7 linked regions of the Homo sapiens genome follow. The protein of the gene in region 2 interacts with the protein of the main gene of each other region in a biochemical or structural test. Each region holds a gene or a part of one and is shown on either strand. Other genes may lie near its edges.

Region 1 (3,222 bases), on a different chromosome or scaffold from region 2:
CAAAGAAAGCCTAAAGTATTTACCATTTGGCCCTTTGCAGAAAAAGTTTGCTGACCCTTCCAAAAAACCCTAGAACATTGGGGTAGACGCGGAACTCCCAGCCACCCTGCTCCCTGCCCCAATAGTACAGAGAGGGGAAAGGCCTGCTGTTCAGAGTGAGAGGGGCTCGAGCTGGAGTGGGGAGGTGCTGCTCAGCATTTGGGGGAATCTCTGGGTCAGGCTGGAAGCGGAGAAGCCTGGTCTCCAGGGCCTTTCCGAGGCTGAGCTACTTGAAGGGGCCTTTGGAGGCTGCTTTAACTGTGCCTCTGGCTGGGCGGGAAGGAAGGGGGTGGGAGTGGGCAGAGGAAACTCTGGGCTCCCCCAGCAGGCGAGGATCTGGAGCAGCTCCAGACCATTGTGTCCAGCGGGCAGGCCTTCAGTGCGGGAAGGGGCGGCCTCGAGGCTCCCCTCCCCCAGCCCCCACATCTGGTGGGCTGGCCCCAGCATAGCTGGGAGGAGCAGCTGTGGTCTTGCTGAGCCTCGTGACTGGCCTCTGGGGGTGGGGCCAGTCCTCTCTCCAAAGCTGTGGAACAGAGGAGGCTCCAGGCTGTGGCTGAATTTCGGGCCTTAGCTAGTCAGTAAGTGGTACTGTAGGGCTCACTGGAAAGCTGGGATGGGGCTAAAAAACTCAGCCGGCTCATCCTTCAGGGGACCGGCCCTTCTCTGTGCTTCCCTCCCACCACTAGAGGCTGGATTGGTTCTCTGTGGCTCCATGAGGCTGATTTCAATTGGGTATGGGAAAGACATTCCAATAATCTGTGATGAGACTGAGCTGTCACTGGAGACAGAGTCCTGCTGGAATGTTCTAGACCAGTTGCCAATATCCAGGGAGGCCCAAGCTATGGGACTTCTACACCTTTTAATCCTAATTGTCTTGACCCCTGTGTCTCTTGCAGGAAAGTGCTGACGTTGGAGAAGGAGGATAACCAGACCTTCGGCTTTGAGATCCAGGTGGGAGAAGCTGCACACAGGGGTCAGGGGGGTTGGATGACCAGCCTGAGGGATGAACGGACTTGTCCCAACCCTGGGCTGAGGGTCCCCTTGTCCATTACAGACTTATGGCCTTCACCACCGGGAGGAGCAGCGTGTGGAAATGGTGACCTTTGTCTGCCGAGTTCATGAGTCTAGCCCTGCCCAGCTGGCTGGGCTCACACCAGGTGGGGCCTGAGCCCAGGACACCCAGGTCTGGGAAGGGGATATGACCTTACTCCCAAGCAAAGGGGGTGAGCAATCTCTCCTGAAATCAATTCCTCTTCCTTTTCCTTCTTTGAGAAGGCCAGAAAGAAGAATGGATAGAATCTGGGCTTTGGATCTAGGCAAATTTGCCATGTACTGTGTGATCTTGCACAGCCCCATCTACAAAATGAGGGTAATAATGCATCCAAACATCACAGTGCGGCAAGGGGATTCCCTGGGCACACTGCCAGGGCCTAATTAATGGTGGATGATGCTGCTGCTGCTCTGATTCCTCCCAGCAACCCTGGCAGTCAGCATGGGCAGGAGCCAGGGAAGAAGCAACATTCCATTAAGTCTGTTTGATATTGGGGATCAGGCCAATCCTGCCCCAAAATGGGCCCAGTGCTGAGGAACCGATGTTACTCCCTTTTAAAAAATTAGAAACTTTTTTTTTTTTTAAGAGACAGGGCCTCAGTCTGTCACCCAGGCTAGAGTGCAGTGGCGTAATCATAACTCACTATAACCTTGAACTCCTGGGCTCAAGCGATCCTCCTCTTGCCTCTGCCTCCCAAAGCAATATGTTACTTCCTCTAACAAGGAAATTATGCTTCAGCAGGAGATCCCTGGATTGAGCAGATCTAGAGTCCCCAGGTTCCAGGAAGGGCAGCCTGAAACTGTATGAATCAATCCCCCCTCCACCATCTTTGCCCCTAAGCCCCTACCTCCTTCCCACTTACCAGCAGCCCGTGCTAGCTATCTTAGTCCATTTTCTGTTACCATAACAGAATACCTGATACTGGGTAATTATAAAGAAAAGAGGTTTATTTAGCTCATGGTTCTGGAGGCTGGGAAGTTCAAGACTGGGTGGCCGCATCAGGTGAGGGCCTCATGCTGCGTTCTGACATGATGGATGGCATCTCATGGCAGGAACGCCTGCAAGAGTGGTGAGTAGGCACACGCAAAAGAGACAAAACATGGGTGATCTTGCTTTATAGCAACCCACTCGCCAGGTAACTAAACCAGTCCTACCAGAGCAAGAACTCACTCCCCAAAAACAGCATGGATCCCTTCACTGGGCAGATCCTTCATGGCCCAAATGCCACTTTTTTTGAGATGGAGTTTCGCTCTTGTTGCCCAGGCTGGAGTGCAATGGCATGATCTCAGCTCACTGCAGCCTCTGCCTCCCAGATTCAAGCAATTCTCCTGCCTCAGCCTCCCGAGTAGCTGGGATTACAGGCACTGGCCACCAAGCCCAGCTCATTTTTGTATTTTTAGTAGAGATGGGGTTTTGCCTTGTTGGCCAGGCTGGTCTCGAACTCCTGACCTCAGGTGATCCACCCGCCTCGGCCTCCCAAAGTGCTGGGATTACAGGTGTGAGCCACGGCGCTCGGCCCCAAATGCCTCTTAAAGGTCCTACCATCTCTCAGCACTGTTACGTTGGGGATGAAGCCTCAACATGAGTTTTGGGGACAAACAATATTTAAATGGTAGCAGTAGCCAAGTGGTATACTACAACTTCTCAAAGTAGTTTCAAATCCACTCTCCCTCCCCATCATCCCTGAAGCATCCACAGCAGGGATCCATACCCCTTTTTACAGATAGGAATGGGGCCCTGACATGGGGCACACTGTGCTTGAGGTCAGGAAGCTCTCCAGTGGTGCAGGGTAGCAGAACTATCCCTCTGGGGGCCAGTCATTCCCTGTGCTTCTCTCCCACCACCAGAGGCTGGACTGATTATCTGTGGATCCATGAGGCCATGCCATGCCTGGGGCCAGGGTCGGTTCCCAGCTGGGTGCTGCTCACCTGCTCTTCCCTGAATTGACTGGGTCTTATGGCCAGCGTGGACTGGACAGAAATAACCAAATCTGAGGGTAGCCCAGGGTCCTGGGTGGGCTTAGCTTTGGGACAGAACTTCTTTTTTTTTTTTTTTTTTTTGAGACGGAGTCTCGCTCTGTCGCCCAGGCTGGAGTGCAGTGGCGCGATCTCGGCTCACTGCAAGCTCCGCCT
Region 2 (3,258 bases):
TTTACGGTTCCTCCACTAAAAGGTGGAGCCTGTTCCACACCCTTTGGTGCCGGGGTTGGCCAGGAGATGTGCTTTGCCAGAAGAAGGTTAGCAGGTATGACAGGACAAAGCCAGGAGAAGCCCCTTTGTGACAGGGTGTGTTGTCTTGTGCCCCTGCCATGAACACATCCAGCCACACGGCTGGTCCCATGAGGAAGAGGAGAGGCACACAGCACAGAGCCCAGCCCGAATTAGCTCATCTACAAATTCATGAGCTAAGTCAATACTTTGTTGCACAGATTATTGCTGACATTTTACAGTTTGTTACACAGCATTACTGGGGCACCAGCTAAGTGATGCGACCTGGTCCCTGTTTCCTCACCACAAACCGACTAGTGTAAATAAATTACACACATATAATCAATCCCACGGTTTACTCAGATGGCTTAAGAATCTGACGTATGGTGAGGACATTCTTTTTTTACAAAAGCTGTAAAGTAGGTAAATCAAAGACATCTCCATTCACTTGAAGAGACACTATTTATTTTGTTACAGTCAAGCAGGATGATCTGTTGATAGGTGAGTGGTAAGTGTCGAGCATGAAATCTACACACATTTGCTGTGGTGGACTGAAGGATACAAGCCACAGGCCACCCCCCATAGGCAGAGCCCTCCACAGCCACACTACAAGAGGGCGAAGGAGCAGCTGCCACCCAACAACACCAGGGCCAACCATTAGCACCAGATTGATTTTCTATGAATAATACAACTAGATACAGAGTTATGGATGTTGACTCACTAGAATCTTTGGGTCCCCACTAACCAGACGTTTCAGAGGCAAACAGGGGAACTGACAGGACAGCTGGCTCTATGTGCTTTGCTACAAGGATACTCGAGCACGACGTATTGCTGTGTAGAAGAGAAAGTCCTAAAAAGACATCAAAAGGCTGAGTACAGACACCAATTGGATTATTCACATTTTACACACATATCATCAAAATGACCACAATACTGTATTTGAGGGCAAAGAATAACAGGTAAAAGCTCTGCCAAACAAAATACTCTGAAATTCCTTGGGTCGTCTCCCCGAGGGAGAAAGATGGGGGTAAGTGCACAGCCAGCTTCACCTTTTCAGACTGACCAGCATTCACGCAAGTGACTACCAGCTGGAGAGGAGGAGGAAGCTTCGCTGGCAGAACAGGGATTTTTCAAGTTAGCAAGAGCTTAATTTAACAGGAATACACACTTTTGGAAAGACATTTATCCTTTTGGCATTGGTAGGCTGCCAAAAAGGCGGTTTATTGCCTGCATCATTGAGCTTGCCAGTTTGGACTTGGCTCTATAGAGAATGCATTACCGTCAACACGGCCCCTCTGGCTCAGGAAGTGTGGATTCTAGTCTTTTAAGACATCTGTGTGTGTGCATCTGTGCACGCGCACGCGTCTGCTTTGGTAAGGCTGTGGTCACTGCTGCTGACAAAATGAAATCTCCATTCCACTGGAAAACTTCTTTTATGGGAATAAGGGGAAGTCAGGGTTAAAATGATCCGTTGATCCAACAAATGCCCTAATACGACCTAAACACGAAGTCACCCAAGGGATTCACTCACCATTAACATGCATTTAATTAAACATTTTTTGAAGAAATACACTGAATCTACAATTATTAGATAAAAATAAGTAAGTTATAAATTATAACCAAGCCATCGGCGGCTGAACGTCTTTTCGTGTGCTTGTTTGCCACGCGTGTATGCTCTTTGGTGAAGTGTCTATTCAAGTCTTTTGCCTGCTTTTCACTTGGGCTGTTTGTTTTCTTACTATCCGGTTTGAGAGTTCTTTGTACATCCTGGACACAAACCTTTTGTCAGATACACGATTTGCAAATATTTTCTCCCAGTCTGTGACTTGTCAATTGGGAACTGACAGCATGACAGTGTTTTCTTTTAACAAACCAGGCTCTCTTTAGAATCCTGCCATTTCAATCAAGGAAATGGGCATAGAATCTTTAAACTTCATGGCAGAAAAAGATCAAGCTCAGGAGCTGTGTAGTCCACGGGACCTCTGAAGAGGAAGGGGTCTTCCCGTCCATGGAATGTGGCCCTCATGCCATGCTAAACGATTTAAGGAGGAAACAATGGAAAAGTAGCCAATTATCACGGACAATCATATGCATACAAAATACATGGGGGGAAAGTAACTGAAAAAATCTTCTGTTGGTCTTGAGAAACAGCTAACAAGCACATTACTACTGGACACGCTCTTAACCAAAAAATTTTACTTTGCAGAACAACTGTGATGTGAGGTGAGAAGGACTAAAGCTATTTGCCTGCTTGGTGCGTGACTGTGTTTTTTAAAGCATGCACGTTATTTCTTTAAGTGGCAATTTAATCTGAGAATGAGTGAACCCAACCACACAGGTGGTTCCTTTCACAGTTGGTTTTTAACCATTAGGAAACTATTCACCCTTCCAAAAAGTTAATAAATTATCATCATCATGATGATGATTTCTGCTGGGTCAGAGAACATCATTAGATAACAGAGACAAATGCTCACACTGTTGAACGAGCAGGGACAAAACCTGGCAGCCCATGCCTGGATGAATGACAAGAGAAGATGAGCACCAGGGTCCCCCTCTCATGCACGTCATGACGCGCTGGCTGCTGTCCAAGCAGTTGGCTCAGCATCTGAAGACGGGAGGAACAACGGGTTTCCCACTGACAGTGACCACTCGGCAGGCACCACAGGCCCAGCCCACAGCCCATGCAGTGGAAACTCACATCCAGCAGAGCCTGGTGTCAGGTGTAGTTATGTGTAAAGGAAAATGGCTCTCAGCAATCAAAGGGGAAACTAAAAAATTAAATAAATCATCCCACACAAACACAAAAGTTATTGCTTTTATAACAGCCTCTTTGCTATGGGAGAAGTCTCTTTCCAGGCCATGAACACAGATGGGGTCTTCACGAGTATCCTTGGGAACGGAGCTGGAGCTCGGAGGCCCCGTGCCCCTCCTCCACCGGGGACTGGTCTCTTATTTGCCCCTTTCGGGCTGAAGGCTGTCCAATAAGCACTTCAGCTGCTCTTCACCAAGGTGGATTTTATCTTCCAGCTCCCGCTGCTCGATGATGAGGGCCGACTTCATCTTCACGAAGTGCTCATAGTCCGCGAGGCTCTCCTCGCTCAGATAGTTGGCCAAAATGTCAAAGACGATGCGCTCGCGGCGGTCCAGGTTCTCCTTGAGCTCCTTGGCGTCCTCGTGCTGCTGGATCAGGACTCTCTGCTT
Region 3 (3,500 bases), on a different chromosome or scaffold from region 2:
GGATATATTAGCACTTCATATTTTTTATTGCAAAACAGTACTCTCTTATCTGGATATACCACATTTCATTTATCCATTTATCAGTTGAACATCTAAGTCGTTTCTCCTTCTTGACTATTCTGAATAATGCTGGTGTGAATATTCATGTACAAGTTTTTGTGCGGGCATACGTTTTCATTTCTTGTGTATATACCTAGGAGTAGAATTGCTGGGTGTGATGTTATACAATAAGAAATATATATTTGGTCTTGGTCTGGTTCCTAGCCTAGAACTTCAAAGATCCTTGGAACTCCCTGAGTAATAGAGGTAATAGAGCATATTTTGGAATTCATAATAAGTCTCTCAGTCACATCTGAATTTATGCTAATAAAGTGATTCTTGGTAGGCCCCTAGACAACTTCAGGATGGAAGCTGGTTGCCAGAAGAACCAACTGTGTTGATTAGAGAGTTGGAACTTGCAGCCCCACCCCTGGATGGGTGAGGGGGTGGTGGTGAGGACTGGGTATTGAGATCAGTTATCAGTGGCCAGTGATGTAATCAATCATGCCTGTGAAATGGGACCTCCATAAAATCTTCTAAACAGTGGTTTTCAGAGAGATTCTGGGTTGGTGAATGCATCCTTATGCTGGGAAGGTGTTGCTTCAACTTCATGGGACAGAAACTCCTATACTTGGAACCCATCTCGGCCTCACCCTTGTGCCTTTTGATTTGGTGGTTTATTTATATCCTTTATAATAAACTGATAGGCATAAGTAAAGTGTTTCCCTGAGTTTCGGTGAGCCATTCTTGCAAATTATTGAACATGAGGAGGGGGTTGTGGGAACCCCTATTTATAGCTATTTGGTCAGAAGTACAGGTGGCAATGTGCAGCTTGTGGCTGGTAACTGAAGTGAGGGTAGTCTTGTGGAACTAAGCCTGTGGAGTCTGACATAAACTCTGGGCAGTTAGTGTCAGAATTGAATTATAGGGCACTCAGTTGGTGTCTGGAAAGTTGGAGAACTGTATTGGTATGGAAAAACACTTCCACATGTGGTGTCAGAAGTGTTGTTAGAAAACAGCTCATGTGGTAACTCTTGTTGAACAGTTTGAGGAACTGCCAAATTGTTTCCCAAAGCGACTGCACCATTTTATAATCCAATTCTCCAATTTCTCTACATCTTTGCCAATACTTGCCATTTGCTTTTTTAAATTTTAGCTATCTTGGGGTGAAGTGGTATCATGTTGAGGGTTAGATTTTCATTTCCCTGGTGGCTAAGATGTTGAACATCTTTTCATGTGCTCATTGGCCATTTGTATATTCTCTTTGTGGAAATATCTACTGAAATCCTTTGTCCATTTTTGAATTGTATTGTTGGTTATTGAAAGAGTTCTTTGTATGTTTGGTTACTAAATGTTTATCAGATATATGATTTACAAATACTTCTGTTTTCTGGGTTGTCTTTTCACTTTCTTGATAATATACTTTTGATGCATTAAAAGTTTAAATTTTACAGTATAATTTATCTGTTTTTTTTTGTTTGTTTGTTACACAGGCTTTTGGTGTCATGTCTACATTGCCAAATCCAAGGAATGAAGATTTATTCCATACTTTCTTCTAAGAGTTCTGTGGTTTTAGTTCTTATATTCAGTTGTTGGTCCACATTTTTATATGGTGTGAGATAGGGGTCCACGTTTTTTTGTTTTGTTTTGTTTTTGAGACAGAGTCTCACTCTGTCGCTCAGGCTGGAATGCAGTGGCACAATCTCAGGTTACTGCAATCTCTGCCTCCCAGGTTCAAGCAATTCTCATGCTTTGGCCTCCCGAGTAGCTGGGATTACAGGCGAGCGCTACCACGCCCGGCCAATTTTTGTATTTTTACTAGAGATGGGGTTTCACCACATTGGCCAGGCTGGCCTCAAACTCCTGGCCTCAAGTGATCCACCCACCTTGGCCTCCCAAAGTGCTGGGATTACAGGCGTGAGCCACTGCGCCCTGCCAGAGGGGGTCCACTTTTTTGCATGTGGTACTCTAGTTGTCCCATCCTCATGTGTTGAAGAGACCATTATTTCCTGATTGAGTGGTCCTGATATCCTTGTTGAAAAATCAGTTGACCACAAATGTCTGGGTTTTTTCCCCTGGACTCTTTGTTTGATTCTCATGGTTGATATAGCTATCCTTATGCCAGGTACCATGTGCTGTTTTGATTACTGTGGCTTTGTAGTACATTTTGAAATTGAGATGTGTGAATTCTTCGACTTTGCTGTTTCCAGTATTTGTTGGCTCTTCAGGGTCCCTTGCAATTCCATATGAAACTGAGGATCCATTTCTGTAAAAAAGGCCATTGGAATTTTAATAGAGATTGCATTGAATTTGTAAAACATTTTGGGTAGTATTTCTGTTTTAAAAATATTAAGTCCTCCAATCCATTAACAATAGGATGTCTTTTCACTTATTTAGTTTGTCTTTAATTTCTTGCACAATATTTGTAGTTATCAGTGTCAAGTCTTTCACTTCCCTGGTTAAATTTATTTCTATTTTTTTTTTAGGTGCTGTTGCAAATGAAATTGTTTTTTAAATTTGTTTTTCAATTTGTTTTTCACAATTGTTTTTCACAATTGCCTAGTGTTTAGATATACAACTTATTTTCTGTCACCTTATATCGTGTGACTTTGCTGAACTCCTTATTAGTTCCCATAGTTTTCTAGTGTATTCTTTTGAGTTTTGTATATAAGATCATGCTGTCTGTAAACAGAGATAGTTTTACCTCTTCTTTTCCTATATGGGTATCTTTTATTTATTTATTTTTCATTCCTAATTGCCCAGGCTAGAACTTCCCATACAATGCTAAATGAAAGTGGCAATAACAGACTTCCCTGTCTTGTTCCTTATCTTAGGAGGAAAGCTTCCAGTCTTTTACCATTTAGTATAATGTTAACTGTGGGTTTTTCTTTCTTTTCTTATTTTTTTTGAGACACGGTCTCATTCTGTCACCCAGGCTGGAGTGCAGTGGTACAATCATGGCTCACTGCAGCCTTGACCTCCCAGGCTCACGTGATACTCCCACTTCAGCCTCCTGAGTAGCTGGGTCTACAGGCATGAGCCACTATGCCTGGCTAATTTTTGTATGCTTTGTAGAGACAGGGTCTCCCTATGTTGCCCAGGCTGGTCTGGAGCTCCTGGGCTCAAGCTTCTGCTTCAGCCTCTCAAAATGCTGGGATTATAGGCATGAGCCACCATGCCTGGCAACTGTGGGTTTTTCATTGATACACTGTATCAGTTTAAGGATGTTCCTTATGTTCCCAGTTTGTTGAGTACTTTGTTGAGTGTTTGTCAAGTGTGTTGCTTAATTATCTACATATTTTTGAAGTTTTCAACATTTTGTCTGTTATCGATTTTCAGTTTCATTTCATTGTGATCAGAGAACATACTTTGTATGATTTTAGTCTTTTAAAGTTTATTGAGGCATCTTTTATTGCCTAACATATGATCTGTCCTGAGACTGTTCCATGTGCACTTGAGAT
Region 4 (4,074 bases), about 41 Mb from region 2:
GCAGAAAGAAGGCTGCTACCCACAACTGCAGCATTATGTGTATGGGAGATAAATTCACTTGTCATATTTCAAATCAGGTTTACAGGTATTTCTCCCCCGTCCGCTCCCCCCACCCAGCTGTGGCTTAACAGGTAGTCTTCTCAAATTTTAATTACAATTGGTAATATATTGGCGTCTAAAGTCTAGGTCTGACTAAGATGATGGTTTGTGTGTATGTGTACGTGACTATAACAGAAAGAGCTTCTAAAGTCTTCCGATGTGGTGGGAAAGGTGCTGCGCTAGGCATCAGTCGTTCTCTTCCCAAGAGAATCTCCCATCTCTAATGTCAGACTGCTTCAGGAGGTGAAAAGGGTGTGGGTGTTGCAGTGAATTTCCCCAGCCCAAGACACACACACACACACACACAGACACACACACACACGCGCGCGCGCGCGCGCGTTAACAAGTTTGGGGGGGGCGGAAAAACAAACTCCTGCTGATGGCTGGGAAATCCAGCTAAAAGCACAAGGCAGGCTCCTATAGCATAGGCGAGCCAGACAGACGCCCAGATAGCCTCAGCTCCCGAGCGCGAAGCCCAGCTGCTGCCGGGGCACTCTCGACTTGCTCTCGGGGAGGCTGCAGGCTGCGGAAAGCCGGGGCGCCAGCCTCCCTCATCACACTCCTTTCCCGAATCACCTCAAACTCTGTACCCAACGGCAAAGCTCAGAAATGCAAAAAACCGAAGAGGGTCAAATTGTACTTCAATCCAAAGGAGGCTGAACACCCGCCCCCCCCGCACCCCCCCCCCCCACCACACACACACCATGCCGCTTAATTTCTTTTCCCGGCTTAGATAAAAAGCATTACTTGCCCATCGAGGCTTGGAGATGGGGGGCAAGAGGTTGGTCCGAGGCTAAGCTCACCTGCTGCTGAGGTGAGAGAGCAGACACAGGATGGAAGCTATTCTGACCAGCAGCTAAGTGGTTGGGGGATTGCAAAGACCCTCAACTTCGCCTCTGGCTTTTTTTTTTCATTCGTGTCACTAAAGGGTTAAACACGGCAAGGCTCCAGCCCGCCCCCCAACCTCCACGCCGCTCCACTCCCCCTCCCCTTTTTGTCTCTCCCCTCCCCTCCCGCGCGTCGCTAGGAGGTCATCAAGCGCTCTGCCCAGTCCGCGTTCGCAAGCCCCTCTGCTTCCCGCCCATCGGACCCGTGGCTGCTTACGAAGAGGTGTGCGCACACTGAGGGGCGTGTTCCAGCATAGGGAGACGCTGAGCGCCCACGGGTTAGACCTCAGAGCCAAGCCAGCCATGGAGTGGGATGGGGGAAAGTTTGGCACCCTGCGAGGGGCTGCCGGACTGGAGTGGGCGGGGCGCCCGAGGGTACTTTAGCCTTCCAGGCTTAGGGACTCAGGCTGCCCAGACCTGAAGCGGTGTGCGGCCATGGACCGCGGAGCTGCCGCAGCCCAGGGCACTGCCCCGCCTCAGGATGGAGAGCAGCCCGCTGAGTCTCCAGAGCCTCCGCCGCCTTGGCCGCCGCCGCCACCACCACCGGCTCCGCCGCCGGCTCCGCCGCTGCTCTCCGAGGCTTCGCCAGAACCCATACCAGAGCCCTGTCCAGAGCTTGCTCCAGGTCCCTGTCCAGAGGCGACCTCAGAATCAGCCACAGAACTGTACACAGAACCGACCCCAGAACCAGCCACAGAGCCGGCCTCAGAACCGGCCCCAGAACCTGCCACAGAGCCGGCCCCAGAACCTGCCACAGAGCCGGCCCCAGAACCGGCCCCAGAACCTGCCACAGAGTCTGCCCCAGAGCCGACTCCAGAACCTGCCCTAGAGTCGGTCCCAGAGCCGGCCCCAGAGCTGACTCCAGAAGTTGCCCCAGAGCTGGCCCCAGAGCCGACCCCAGAACCTGTGACAGAGCTGGCCCCAGAGTTCTGCCCTGAGGCGGCTCCAGAGTTCCGTCCAAGTCCAGCACCATGTCTATTGCAATGTCCGGTGGACACTCGAGAGAGAGGTCTAAAGACCTCGCCATCGCCATCGCCATCGCCATCGCCCAGAACGCCAATGTCGTGGTCCAGAATAAAGGTAAGCAAAAGACCCCCTGAAGCGGGGAAAAGAAGCAAGGCGAAGTCAGATGGCTATGGAGCCCGCGGGACTCCGGGTACCCCTTGCATCCCGCTTGTCTGGCACTGGCTGGCCAAGATGCTGAGAAAGATGCAGGGATGGGGAACCCGGGGGAATGGGAAGGGGTTGGGAGGCGGGAAGCAACATGTGGGAATCGAGAATGGGCTGTTTGGGGCTAGAAACGGGGGTGACAGCAGGGGGTGGGAATCGGAGCAGTTTTCCCCTTGAAGAGAAGCGACAGTGCGGTGAGCGCCAATATCTTGAAAGAGAGGAGGAAGATACCCTCGGGGAGCGCAAGAGACCTGGAGAAGTGTTTGGGGCTGGCCCCGAATACATAGCGGACGGATTGAGTGGGGGCGGTGGGACACACCTCTTAGCCGCGGTCACTGCCGCAGAGGCCCAAGCTGCGGAGCCTTCGCCTGCTTGGCCCCCTCCCTGCCACTGGGGAGGGGGCGCCTCAGCTGGGCGCAACTGGCGGCCCTCCAGGGAGGTGCCCGGCGCCTCTGCCGGCTGCTTCGAGCTGGTACTCCTGGTGAGGACGAGGGGATGGGCGGCGCCCACGCGCACTGCAGGGGAAGGGCAGGGTTCTCCGGGAGGAGGGGGAGAGCATGCGTGTGTCGAAGCCACCATTCCATCTGTCTGCAGGATTTCCCAGCAGGTAGGTGCAAACGCAGTGATACAATGTTGCGCAGCGTCACAAACGGGGCAACTGGCATCCCGCACCAGGGCCAATTGGAATGGTACAGGAGTCCTGGTTTAGAGACACGAAAATAGGAGTTGGGATTGCAGAACGTGTGAAGGGGAACCTTCATCTCTACCAGTCTACCGCGACGCCTTCTAAATCGTTACACTTAGCCGGGAAAAGATGAGTGGAGAATCTTCTGGCACTCGCCCAAGGGGAGTAGGGAGGAAAAAGGTTTTCGTGTTTACCTTGGACCCTGAAACCCCGTCTGCTCTTAAGCGGGAGTATGCCTGTCTTTCCTGCTTTCTCTGCACTCTCCCTACTCTTCCTTTACCCTAAACTTCGTTCCACAAAACTGAAAACCAGGATAATGCACACACACACCTCAATTTAGCTTCCCCTGCAGGAAGACATACACACGCGCGCGCATTCACACACACACACACACACACACAAACGAATAACACAACACACGAACAATACCGGTCCATCCTGCTGCCTAGCAGACCATAAGGACACGGCTCAGGAACCCTTCTGCTGTGGACCGCACACTTATAGAATGTAGAATGCGGGAGGGGAGGGGGCAGATTGGCATCACGAAATGGAAGCATTGGTTGCTTCCTGAGTTCTTAGTAGGGAGGCTTGAGTTTGCAAAATATCTGCAATGACGAATAACTGAAAAAGAAGGCTAAAATGAAAAGTTTCACAGAGAAAAGAAAGTGCAGAGGTTTAAAAATAAATAAAACATGACGGTGGGAGACTCTGATAAGTTTTTAAAAATTCAACACCCTAGCTCTCACCAGGGGATGTATCCCTCCCCTTCCTGAAAATACCCTTTCCTGCAGTGATCTTAAGAAGGGCAAAGTTGGGGTGGCTAGATTTGGGAGCTCACCCTCACCGGGTGATTGATCTTGTCTTTTTGGAAGAGTTTGCATTAAGCTGGTGGGAAAGAGACAAGCAGGAATCACCTGACCTGTGGCCATCTTAAGCGAAATTTTGGGAACATGGCTGTGAAACTGACACGTGGGGACGTAATACCCAGAGAATGCATCTCCCCTTTGGCCTCTGAAAGGCTGACTGGCGACCAGGACCCTTCCCCCAGTGAAAAGCATCCCCTGCTCCCATGCGAAAGCATCTCCTACCTGTTTGACAGGAAAATGTCATTGCCAGACAGATGAGGAAGATTAAGGTAAGGGGAATCAGATTAGTTTCCTCTACGTAGTGCCCACTCAGACGTGCTGGCTAGCTGACCCACAGACATCTGGCAACACTGGCAGGAGACCAGGA
Region 5 (3,500 bases), 2.8 Mb from region 2:
TAGCAAAAACCCAAATTAAATATGTGGGATTCTTGGAAGAAAGCATCCAGTAACCAAATACTATGAGCAAAAAATTAATTTATTACAGATATATTCTCTAGTAATTCATAATAGCTTCTTGAATTTTAAATGTCTTTTTGCTATTTCCAATGCTTAAAAATCATAATTTTAAAACATAAGTACTGTTTTATATACATTGTGATTTCTTTTCTTTTCTCTCTCTTTTTTGTTTTGTGTTTTACTTCTAAATATGAATGATATGGTTTCCAAGTAGCTACTTGGAAAGAAAGGGGATAGGATTCATTGTTTTGCTCTAACATGGTAGAATTTAAAATTTCACATCATATACCTGGAGTTTTAACTATATGAAAAATAGCCAAATGTCATCACTTTCTTGGATATTTCTTTTACGTGTATATATATGTATAATATAAACAGAATACATCTGATTAGTACATTTCAACATTTCATCAATGTGACTTTTATCTCCTATTTTATATAAAATAACAAAATATACAGAGAGAAGAAAGGAGACATCTGTTCATCATACACACAAAGTAAATAAAAGTTCATGTATGGCTTTGCAAAGGTAGATTATGACGTGACTTCCATATTTATTTGTTTAAAAGCCTCTTGAGAGAACGTGTCAGTGTGCTTACGAGAGCGGCCATGGTGGTTGAGTGTCGCGCCGAGAGTCCAACATTAGGGTCCCCAGGGTTCTTTCCAGTGGCTGCTTCGGCAGCTTTCAGTAGACAAATGTAATTTATGACCACTTCATCGATCTTCCCTACAATTTCCTGCCGCTGTGTTTCTGAGTTCACGACTTTAACTAATCGCATGCAAGCTTCTGTTAGGCAACAGAGCACTTGAAAGCTGGAAGTCATAGCTAGGAGCATCTCCTCCGGGCTTTTCTCAGCCATCGCCATTTTCCTACAGGCACTTCCCAACTGTCTGGACTCAATGGATAACAGTTGCTTGTACTGAGAAAGTGTAAGGTCGTACGCTTCAGGGCGTGACTCCTCCCTCTTCTCCTTGGTTGCCCTGACGAGACAGAGCAGCTCATTGGCATCATTTTGGGCTGCAAGGAACCCATCAGGCATTGCATATGTGCTCTCCTTTAGGGCATTTATTCTTGCAATCCGGGCATCAAAAGCCAGGTTGCTGAAGTCCAAGTCATCTGGGTCTCGCAGGTCTTCTGCCCAGACCTTCAGCACTGACCCTCTGGATAGCTCCCCTCGTTGCTTCTGAATCGCCACAGCCAGGCATGGGCTGCTTGGTTCTGGCATGGCTTGAGTCATCTGTGGTCTATAGAGGCAAGAGACCTGGACGGTGGCCTCTCCCCTCTCCTCTTCTTCCTCACCATCTTCATCCTGCCCTCGGTTCAGGAAGCAATAGCTGAAGGGTCCCCGGCATCTCCAATTGCTGCCCTCCAGCTTCCGCAAGGGTAATGTCCTATACAGCTTTGAGTCTTTATGAGCCACTGGGGACCTTTTGTGAAACCTCCCCTCAGAGCTCAAGTGCATTGAGCTTTGGGAAAAACTTTTGGTGAGCTTCCTCCCCAGGGGGAGTTCTGCTCGCCTTTCAGAACTGGCCTCCTGTGCTTCTGTGATGCCTGGACACTTTAAGCTGACTGCACCCTTGGTTCTCTCTCGGAAGGTCTCCAAATCGACAGATCCGGAGAGGATACTGCTGCTATGTCTCAGAGCCTTCTGGCTGGGAGGTGTCCTGAGGCTCCCCCCTCTCAGATCCGGTGGCCGCCAGCTCACAGCCTCTCCGTATGCCTGATTTGCTTGGGAGAAATCATTAGGGTCTTGATTTGGAATTGGCACCTTTGATTCCGAGTGAATGTTTGATGGTAGCAGGATGGGATCAGCTTCAGGATGTTGAGACCAAGCTGAAGGCATGCCTCCTCGTCTCTCCTTCCCAGGCTCTGTCAAAGCTACACTAGGGGTAGTAGAAAAACAGAGAGAATCATTAAGCATCTCCTGGGAGGTCATTTTTACTACATCTCTACATGATGTCTGTCATTTCTCAAGGTTGTAGTCTGGAAGGGCTGCCGATGCTAAGGTCACCCTGCTTTCCAAAGACTGCCTCTTGATATCTCATAACAAATTTCCATTTTAATGAATATCAAGAAAATACTGGAATCTGTTATTTCTGGAACTGCTGATTCATTTGGAATTGTCTAGAAATCCCAAACATTTTCAGGGATTTCATGAATTGCCTTACTCCCAATATCTACCCATCAAAGCTTAGACACAGAAAACAACTGTGTATAGATTATTCAAATATATTGGAGATATTAAGTTTCATTTCAAGGGAATTAGGTTAAATCTGGCATTGTTACTTTTCTTTTCTTTTCTTTCTTTCTTCCTCCTTTCTTTCTTTCTCTTTCTTTCTTTCTTTCTTTCTTTCTTTCTTTCCTTTCCTTTCCTTTCCTTTCCTTTCCTTTCCTTTCCTTTCCTTTCCTTTCCTTTCTTTCCTTTCTTTCTTTTAAAGAAGTGGCCTAATTTAATTAGTGCAAATTAAATAAGTGAATCTTTTTAAGAAGTCAGCATGAGGTTTGCCTGGTAAAAGTCTGAAGTTGAAACACTGGGCCAGTTGTTCAACATTTTTTTTTTTCTTTAAGAAAAGCTGTCATGTGAAGCAAATAATCCCCATCTCACAGAATTTTTGTGAGAAGCAAGAGGTAACTCAGGTGAAAGTTCTTTATAAATCATGAAGGATTAAACAGTGTGACTTAGTTTAGAGGTAAAGATGCAGTTGGGTGATGAGTTAGGTGATATTCACAGACAGCTTTTCCAAAGGAGGTAAAGCCAGTGGTGGGTTTTGAGAAAGTAGAAAATCTTAAAAGAACAGGAATAGAAAATGACCAATATAAGATGTCACTAACTTCCATTGACCTGTATGGAAAAGACACTATTGATGACATAATTTGAAACATAAAAGTATGAAAGAGTATCTGCTTTTGCCATGTGATGGCCAGCCAAGTGGATCGGTGAGGGGAATGCCTGCCATTGAGTGGTGGAGTGGTGAAGGTGGGATACAGAAGGTGGATGTGTTCTTTTTTCTACGTGTGTTTACACTTTATTATTTTGGGGAAAATAAAGCAGCTCATCAGGAATAGCCTCAAAATCTTCCTGACACTGGGGTATGCAAGACACTTCAGAACATCCATATAGAGCAGTCTTACAGAGTAGGGAGGAATCAGTAAGATTGCCGAAAGGCAAATGATCTCTCCAAACCCCTCCAATCTCCCTGATACCCTGCTCTCTTATCCTTCCTTGTCCCTCAATAATGAAATGGCAGAATTAGAACTCAGATGTCTTGGGAAGAAAATCAAACTGTTATGTGACTCTAAGCAATACTATCATATAACTAAAAGTCACACTGGGCATTGCTAAACATCTGCATTTAGAATTTAGGAAAAACATATTGCCCCATCCAATTCTGAAAGCAAGCACAGAGTAAGATTATAAAGAGCAAATGCCATTTTCACC
Region 6 (3,500 bases), on a different chromosome or scaffold from region 2:
CAATCACAGCCCTCCCAGCACTTTCCCTATTCCTTTTTGGCTTCCTGACATTCCTAATAGACTAGTATAGGAAGGGAGGTAGGGCTCAGGAAGCCTGGCCAGTGGCTGTTTGCCCTGCTGTATTACATTCCTTGTCAGAATGGTATTTGTGGACCACCTTTGGAAACTGATCAGGAAATGGAGTGTATTAAATCACTAATATAGATTTGAAAATAAACTTAAAAGCCCAGGGTGAAAACGTGTCATTGCTCTCCGCAGGCCAAAACCCAGAACAAAGAAGAATCCTATGACTTCTCCAAATCCTATGAATATAAGTCAAACCCCTCTGCCGTTGCTGGTAATGAAACTCCTGGGGCATCTACCAAAGGTTATCCTCCTCCTGTTGCAGCAAAACCTACCTTTGGGCGGTCTATACTGAAGCCCTCCACTCCCATCCCTCCTCAAGAGGGTGAGGAGGTGGGAGAGAGCAGTGAGGAGCAAGATAATGCTCCCAAATCAGTCCTGGGCAAAGTCAAAATATTTGAGAAGATGGATCACAAGGCCAGGTTACAGAGAATGCAGGAGCTCCAGGAAGCACAGAATGCAAGGGTAATTGTTTTTAAACTACACATCATCAATAAGAGTTTTAAATAAGTTTGATTTCAACATAACAGCGAACAGCCCCTTTGCTGCTGCTGCAGATGTGGCAGGGATGCACTGCACCAAAGGCAGGTGCTGTGTATGTCACTTCAGATTGCCAGCTCCCAGCACGTCCCTTGTTCTTCCAAAGAAGAAAACTTGACAATATAGGGGAAGAAGATTCTGCTCTTTATACACAGAACTTTGTATAGAGTTCTGGAATGAGGAAGTGTGAGGAGGGAATCAGTGCCTCTCGGAAGTCGTTTTAATTAGAATGTGATTTTTTTTTCTTAAACGTGTCTTCATTGGCTCCCAGATTTGCCGTAGAAACCAAGCAAACTGGGTGCTAAAACAGAAAGGCCCATAGATTGTACTTTTTGAGCTGTTTGAATTTGTATACCATATGCACATAGAACTTTTCAAACAAAGAAGAATTTAACTAAAGGTCTGTGGAGTATATTTGCCCAGTAGATGTGGGAGTTTTCTTTCAGGTCTAGCACAACAGCAGCAGTACATCTGAGCATTTTTCTTTTCTTGTCGTAAAATATACATAACATAAAATTTACCATTTCAACCACTTTTTTCTTTTATTTATTTTGTTTTGTTTTGTTTTGTTTTGAGACAGGGTCTCCCTCTGTCACCCCGGCTGGAGTGTAGCAGTGTGATCACAGCTCGCAGCAGCCTCCACCTCTCAGGCTCAGGAGATACTCCCACCTCAGCCTCCTGAATAGCTGTAACCACAGGCACATGCCACTGCACCCAGCTAATTTTTCGTATTTTTTGAAGAGACAAGGTTTTGTCATGTTGCTAGGCTGGTCTCGAACTCCTGGGCTCAAGCAATGCACCCTCCTCAGCCTCCCAAAGTGCTAGGATTACAATCATGAGTCACTGCACCCAGCCTCAACCATTTTAAAACGTTCGGTTCAGCGGCATTAAGTACCTTCACATTGCTGTTCAGCCATCACCACCATCCATCCCCAAAACTTTTTTATCCTTCCCACGTGAAACTCCGTACCCATAAAATACTAACTCACCACTCTCCTCTCCCCGCAGTCCCTGGCACCCACTCCTTTACTTTCTGTTTTTTGTGAATTGGACAGTGTAGGAACCTCCTATAAGTAGAATCATACACTATTTGTCTTTTTGTGATTGGCTTATTTCCCTTAGCATGATGTCCTCAAGGTTCATCCAGGTTGTAGCATGTGTCAGAGTTTCATTCCTTTTAAATAGTTTTCCTGTCTGACGTGTACCGCACATAACCATGGAAATGAGGAGGCCGCTTCTGTGTTTCCTCTTCTTGAAATGGGATGGGAAAATAAGTAGGATATGGGGAAAGGGTGGGACCAGCAGGAAACCAGCAAGCAGAGTGCCCAGTGGTTCATTCTTTCACTCTTATTCTTTTCTTTTTTAATTACCACAGATCGAAATTGCCCAGAAGCATCCTGATATCTATGCAGTTCCAATCAAAACGCACAAGCCAGACCCTGGCACGCCCCAGCACACGAGGTAAGGGCTGCCTAGTGGGTACAGGTCTAAGGCGGGGACTTCTCAAGGACTGGGACTTGAAGAAAGAATTTCCTTTACCCAAATTTCAGAGTAACAGGAGGATTTTTTCCCCACAGATTGACTGTTTGCCTTACTCATTCCATCAAATTTAATTGTAAAGATTACAGAGTCAAAACTTAAGCATAGTTTGCTTGTGTGCTAAAACTCTGACAAAGTGTAATCATTGATGTTTCCAGCCAGTACATTTGACACATTGGAGCCTGGTTATGTTACATTGCACATGGTTAGCACATGAGCAGAATTCCTACGGCTTAGACCTGTTTTGTCTTGTTTGCTGACTCTCAGCCAAACTTCTTAATTCCTTTGCATCATCCAGCAAAGTCAGACCGCTTGTGCTGCCCTGGGGTCTAAAGGGACCGTGACAAGCAAATGAGCAGTCTTGGTAAATGCCACACAAACAGTAGGAATGTTCACAGTGTCTTCCTGTTGAAGTTTTATACTGGATTGCTTCCTGCTTCCGAGAATAGAAAAAAAAAAGTCACATTTTCTTGTGGCCATTCTTTTGTTTTTTTTGGAGACAGAGTGACTGTCGCCCAGGCTGAAGTGCACTGGTGCAATCTCAGCTCACTGCAACCTCCGTCTCTCAGGTTCAAGCGATTCTCGTGCCTCAGCCTCCCGGGTAGCTGGGATTACAGGTGTGTGCCACCATATCCAGCTAGTTTTTGTATTTTTAATAGAGACAGGGTTTCACCATGTTGGCCAGGCTGGTCTCAAACTCCTGACCTCCGCCCGCCTCGGCCTCCCAAAGTGCTAGGATTACAGGTGTGAACCACTGTACCCAGCCTCTTGTGGCCATTCTGACTGGAAGCTGAAGTCTAGTTTTCCAGTGATAGAAAACTGGAAACAAATTTCTTCTTTACCAGCTGAGTGGTAACACAGTCAACCAGGTTGCCTCTGGCAACAAAGAGTTCTTGGTTATGATGGACTGAAACTGGCAGAGACCTCGCTGCTGGGTGAGACTAGCCAGGGAGCTTAGGGGTAAGGAGGGCACCCCCTGTCCAACAGGGAGATTCTTAGGTCAGGGAGCACCTGGCTGGCTTCCTCACTCACCGCCGAAGTGGGCATTGGATTTGACCTATTACGAACCTGGAGCAGGACCAGGGATGCCCTGGTTGCTCTGCAGAATGTGGCTCAGAGGTAAGTGATCTGCTCGGGATACCCAGTCACTGTGCTCAGAGCCATGCCTCCCCGGGCAGCCGGAGGACATGGATGTGCTCTGGAATGTCTTTAACACCCTTTTTTTGTTAGTTCCAGACCCCCTGAGCCACAGAAAGCTCCTTCCAGACCTTATCAGGATACCAGAGGAAGTTATGGCA
Region 7 (3,500 bases), on a different chromosome or scaffold from region 2:
AAGTGGAAGATTTTATGTAAAGCAAAAACCGCAGTGCCCCGTATATAGACAGCATTCAATAATTAGCAGTTATAATGTGTTGTTATCATTACTAAAAGTAATGGCAAAAACCACAATTACTTTTTCACCAACCTAATATTATTATCATGTTTCACATGAATTAATAGTGTCAGACTCAGAACAGAAGCACAGGTGTCCTGTTCCCAGCTCTTTCTGCCATAAACCACCTGAACAGCTGGGAGACCTGGAAGCATAAGCAGAACTGTCTCTCACTTGATTCATCCTAGATCCATCTCTTTCCTCTCACCTCTCCCCTCCAATCCAACAGCAAGTCCTCATTTTTACTCTGAAATATAACTTAAATCTGGCCACATCTCACTATCCCCTTTGTTCTCCTGGTGTACAACACCATCATCTCCAGCCCCAATTCGACCAGAGCCTCTGAACTTTTCTCCCTGCTTCCTCTCCTGCCCCATGAGTCCATTCTCTTCAAAACAGTTGTGGTGTTCTTCTCAAAACATAAGTTCTATCATTCCCCTGATTGAAATTCCACAGTAGAGTTTTAGAGATAAATTATTCACAATGGTGAATAATGTTCCACATGATTTGGTCTCCACGTGTTGTTCCACCTACATTTGGTTACAATCTGCCCCTTGACCACATCCCCAGAAATGTGTGTGTTTCTAAGATGCTAGATTTCTGTCTACCCCAAGTCCTTTGTACTTGCTTTATCCTTTATTCAGAATTCCCTTTCCTCTGTTTTCAAATGACTGGCTTCTCATTATTGAGCTTTCTCAAAGGTCTTCTCTTTGGAGGGGCTTCCTTGAGCATTCCATCACTTTCCACTTAATTACCCTGGTTTTTTAAATAGCACTTGTCAGAATCTGAAATTACTTTATTTATATTTGTATTGCCTGCCTCTCACTGTAAGAATATACATTCCTGACATCAAGGTATGTTTCTCCTTTCCGAAAAGTACATATACAAAATAGGTGATCAATAAATACATTTTGATTGAAGAAACAAATGAATGAAGTCTACGGCTATTTCTATATGGTACAATAAAAATGTATTATTCAAACTTTTGACAGTGTCCTACATTGATGGCATTGAGCAAGGAAACACAGTGAATCACTCCATAAATGACAGTAGACATAGCCTACCCTACTAAGACATGTTATACATTGGAGATGAGCTAGAAAAAAAAAAGCAGTAGGAAACTTTTCAAATTATGTTTTAATTGTAGCAGCGTACACCTCAGCTGTCTCATACCCTATGTTTGTTTATTCAAAAAATACTGTGTGGGTGTCTACAGTGTGCCTAATACTGCTCTCGAAGTTTTAGACACATCAGTTAAAAAAAATAAGACAAAAATTTCTGCCATTATAGCTTATAGCATCTCTGTGGTTGAGTAGTGGAGAGTAAGTTGGGAAGATAGAAGGCTCTAATCAGAGAAGGGTGCACAAAATTGTGATTATGGAGTGGGTACAGTTATTGATCCAACACATGGTTTTGCAGGCCAGTCTCTGTTACAATTACTCAACTATGTCATTGTGGTATGAATGCAGCCATAGACAACATATAATAAATGAGCGTGGCTGTGTTCCAATAAAACTTTATTAAAATAGGTGGCAAACTGAATATTACCTGACCATAGCTGGCCAACCACTGGTCTGAGGTACAAGGCATAGGCCATGACCTTGGGTGTGAGTGGAGTGGAAGCTGAGGTAGATTGGAGATCAGACATTGGAGGTCAAGGAACTGGACAACCAAGATTGAAAGGATGGAAGGTGGGAAGGATGATCTACATGTATAGTAAAATTGCCAAGTATTAAGGCAGAAGTAGTACCAGAGAGTGTGACAATGAGAGAGGAACTGACAACTCTGAGAAAAAGAGGAAAATGTCCTATAGATTGGCAGATGACAGCATGAAAGGGAAGTAGATGATATAGTCTGATAACATGAGCTTCAAAGCTGAAGCTTTTTTAGGGTTAAGGGAGATATAATGGTCTAAAAATGGCAACAGGATAAAGTTCCATTTTCTGGGACTGTGGTACTTCTTCTCCACATGTTCAAAATAACTTTTCACCAAACACAATACACACATTTTAACTGTTTAAGAACAACGAGAGTAAAAAATATTTCCAGCAATAAGTCCCCAGTACCAGGTGCCTTAGGAAGGTGGTTATGGCCCTATATTTTGAAGATTCCTCATATGCTGTGATGTGGCATCTTTACAAGCACTAACCAGCTACTACCTGGAGGCACATTTTTAGCGCTCATTGGCAAGAAGACCAGCTTTCACGTACACACTGAATATTTTTTATTGTGTCTTCATAGAAAAACGGGAACTTTACAATAGTGACAGACTTATTGATATTATCTACATTGTAATGGGCTAAAAGAAATATCTCGGAGCCTAAAAAAAATCAAATTGATGATCACTAAAGTTTCAAAAGATCAGAACATGCAAGTAGATGCCTAAAAATGAAGATTCGAGGACTTGAAAAGCTAAGTCCTATAAAAGGGAACTGGAGGTTTTCAAAAACGACTAAAATGACACCAAAGAGAGATTAACCAGCAGGCAGAGAGCTGGCAAAGTGTGTTCATGAATTATATACCGTACCAGAAGTTCTAGCAGGAGAAAAGCATAGGATTAATAATTAACTAGCAGAGTAATAATGGGCTTGTATGTTCTGCTTTTTCTTAGTGAAAGAAATAGGCCTACTTACTCTTTCTGCTCATTGCTTGTCTCCTTGTACTTATGGAAAGGAAAGTTTATAAGCCAAATCCTTTTTATAACTGTGAATCATTTATTCCCAAAGCCTATTCAGGCTTCCTCTCATATTCCCATTTGGACCTTTCTGAAAATACTCCAAGGTTCCTGCTGGTGATTGGTACTACACAAAGAGCTGTGCTACCGTGCCACCAATATTTGAAGCCCTTCTCCACAGTATTTTACCTATCACCATTATTATCTTCATCTCCAATCAGCGTTTGTGGGAAAAGTGCACATTTAGCACTGCCCTTTGTACTAAATAATGTGCTGTTTCTGCTCCAGAGTTTAAAGTCCAGGAAAGATAAACTGATGCCTTTTCCCACCTCTCAGTTCCAGCACTGAGCACTTTCCTGAAGTGCAAAATGGGATTCCTTTAAATCTTTATGGGATAAATAAATCAAGACATGTGCAGGACACACCGAAAGTAAAACAGAAATTTTAAATTAAGGAAGGAGCATTAATACATTTACATCATGTGTTAGTAAGATCATGGAAAAGTTCTGGTAAATGCAGAGTTTTGCTGCAGCAAAGTATTAAAAACAAACAAACAAGCAAACAAAAAACCAGGGGTAAATATTCCCGAGAGGAGCAGGAAGAGATAATAAGATCTCTTACTTCTCATAGAGAAGGAAACTAAATGTTTAGTGTTTACAGTACAGTCATGCAACACGTAACAACATTTTGATCAATGATGGATCACGTATATGACGGCAGTTTCATA

What was found.
Region 1: the proteins of SHROOM2 (region 2) and TAMALIN interact in a test that uses a peptide from one of them, tested with the Homo sapiens proteins (one large-scale study listed by IntAct).
Region 3: the proteins of SHROOM2 (region 2) and RALBP1 interact in a test that uses a peptide from one of them, tested with the Homo sapiens proteins (one large-scale study listed by IntAct).
Region 4: the proteins of SHROOM2 (region 2) and DGKK interact in a test that uses a peptide from one of them, tested with the Homo sapiens proteins (one large-scale study listed by IntAct).
Region 5: the proteins of SHROOM2 (region 2) and FRMPD4 interact in a test that uses a peptide from one of them, tested with the Homo sapiens proteins (one large-scale study listed by IntAct).
Region 6: the proteins of SHROOM2 (region 2) and TJP2 interact in a test that uses a peptide from one of them, tested with the Homo sapiens proteins (one large-scale study listed by IntAct).
Region 7: the proteins of SHROOM2 (region 2) and SLC15A5 interact in a test that uses a peptide from one of them, tested with the Homo sapiens proteins (one large-scale study listed by IntAct).

Annotation. Positions count from the first base shown.
Region 1 is NC_000012.12:52,009,946-52,013,167, forward strand, and holds part of TAMALIN (protein TAMALIN), read left to right. Parts: intron 1-546; exon of another isoform or gene 547-617; intron 618-935; coding exon 936-990; intron 991-1,093; coding exon 1,094-1,196; exon of another isoform or gene 1,197-1,237; coding exon of another isoform or gene 1,238-1,262; intron 1,263-3,222. UniProt on the Homo sapiens protein: Plays a role in intracellular trafficking and contributes to the macromolecular organization of group 1 metabotropic glutamate receptors (mGluRs) at synapses.
Region 2 is NC_000023.11:9,946,686-9,949,943, reverse strand, and holds the end of SHROOM2 (protein Shroom2), read right to left. Parts: coding exon 3,007-3,258; 3' UTR 501-3,006; downstream 1-500. UniProt on the Homo sapiens protein: May be involved in endothelial cell morphology changes during cell spreading. In the retinal pigment epithelium, may regulate the biogenesis of melanosomes and promote their association with the apical cell surface by inducing gamma-tubulin redistribution.
Region 3 is NC_000018.10:9,482,013-9,485,512, forward strand, and holds part of RALBP1 (ralA-binding protein 1), read left to right. Parts: intron 1-3,500. UniProt on the Homo sapiens protein: Multifunctional protein that functions as a downstream effector of RALA and RALB. As a GTPase-activating protein/GAP can inactivate CDC42 and RAC1 by stimulating their GTPase activity.
Region 4 is NC_000023.11:50,468,026-50,472,099, reverse strand, and holds the start of DGKK (diacylglycerol kinase kappa), read left to right. Parts: upstream 1-1,274; 5' UTR 1,275-1,421; coding exon 1,422-2,066; intron 2,067-4,074. UniProt on the Homo sapiens protein: Diacylglycerol kinase that converts diacylglycerol/DAG into phosphatidic acid/phosphatidate/PA and regulates the respective levels of these two bioactive lipids.
Region 5 is NC_000023.11:12,718,973-12,722,472, reverse strand, and holds part of FRMPD4 (FERM and PDZ domain-containing protein 4), read right to left. Parts: intron 1,945-3,500; coding exon of another isoform or gene 1,940-1,944; coding exon 615-1,939; 3' UTR 1-614. UniProt on the Homo sapiens protein: Positive regulator of dendritic spine morphogenesis and density. Required for the maintenance of excitatory synaptic transmission. Binds phosphatidylinositol 4,5-bisphosphate.
Region 6 is NC_000009.12:69,250,777-69,254,276, forward strand, and holds part of TJP2 (tight junction protein 2), read left to right. Parts: intron 1-258; coding exon 259-588; intron 589-2,038; coding exon 2,039-2,124; intron 2,125-3,432; coding exon 3,433-3,500. UniProt on the Homo sapiens protein: Plays a role in tight junctions and adherens junctions. Acts as a positive regulator of RANKL-induced osteoclast differentiation, potentially via mediating downstream transcriptional activity.
Region 7 is NC_000012.12:16,218,686-16,222,185, reverse strand, and holds part of SLC15A5 (solute carrier family 15 member 5), read left to right. Parts: intron 1-3,500. UniProt on the Homo sapiens protein: Proton oligopeptide cotransporter.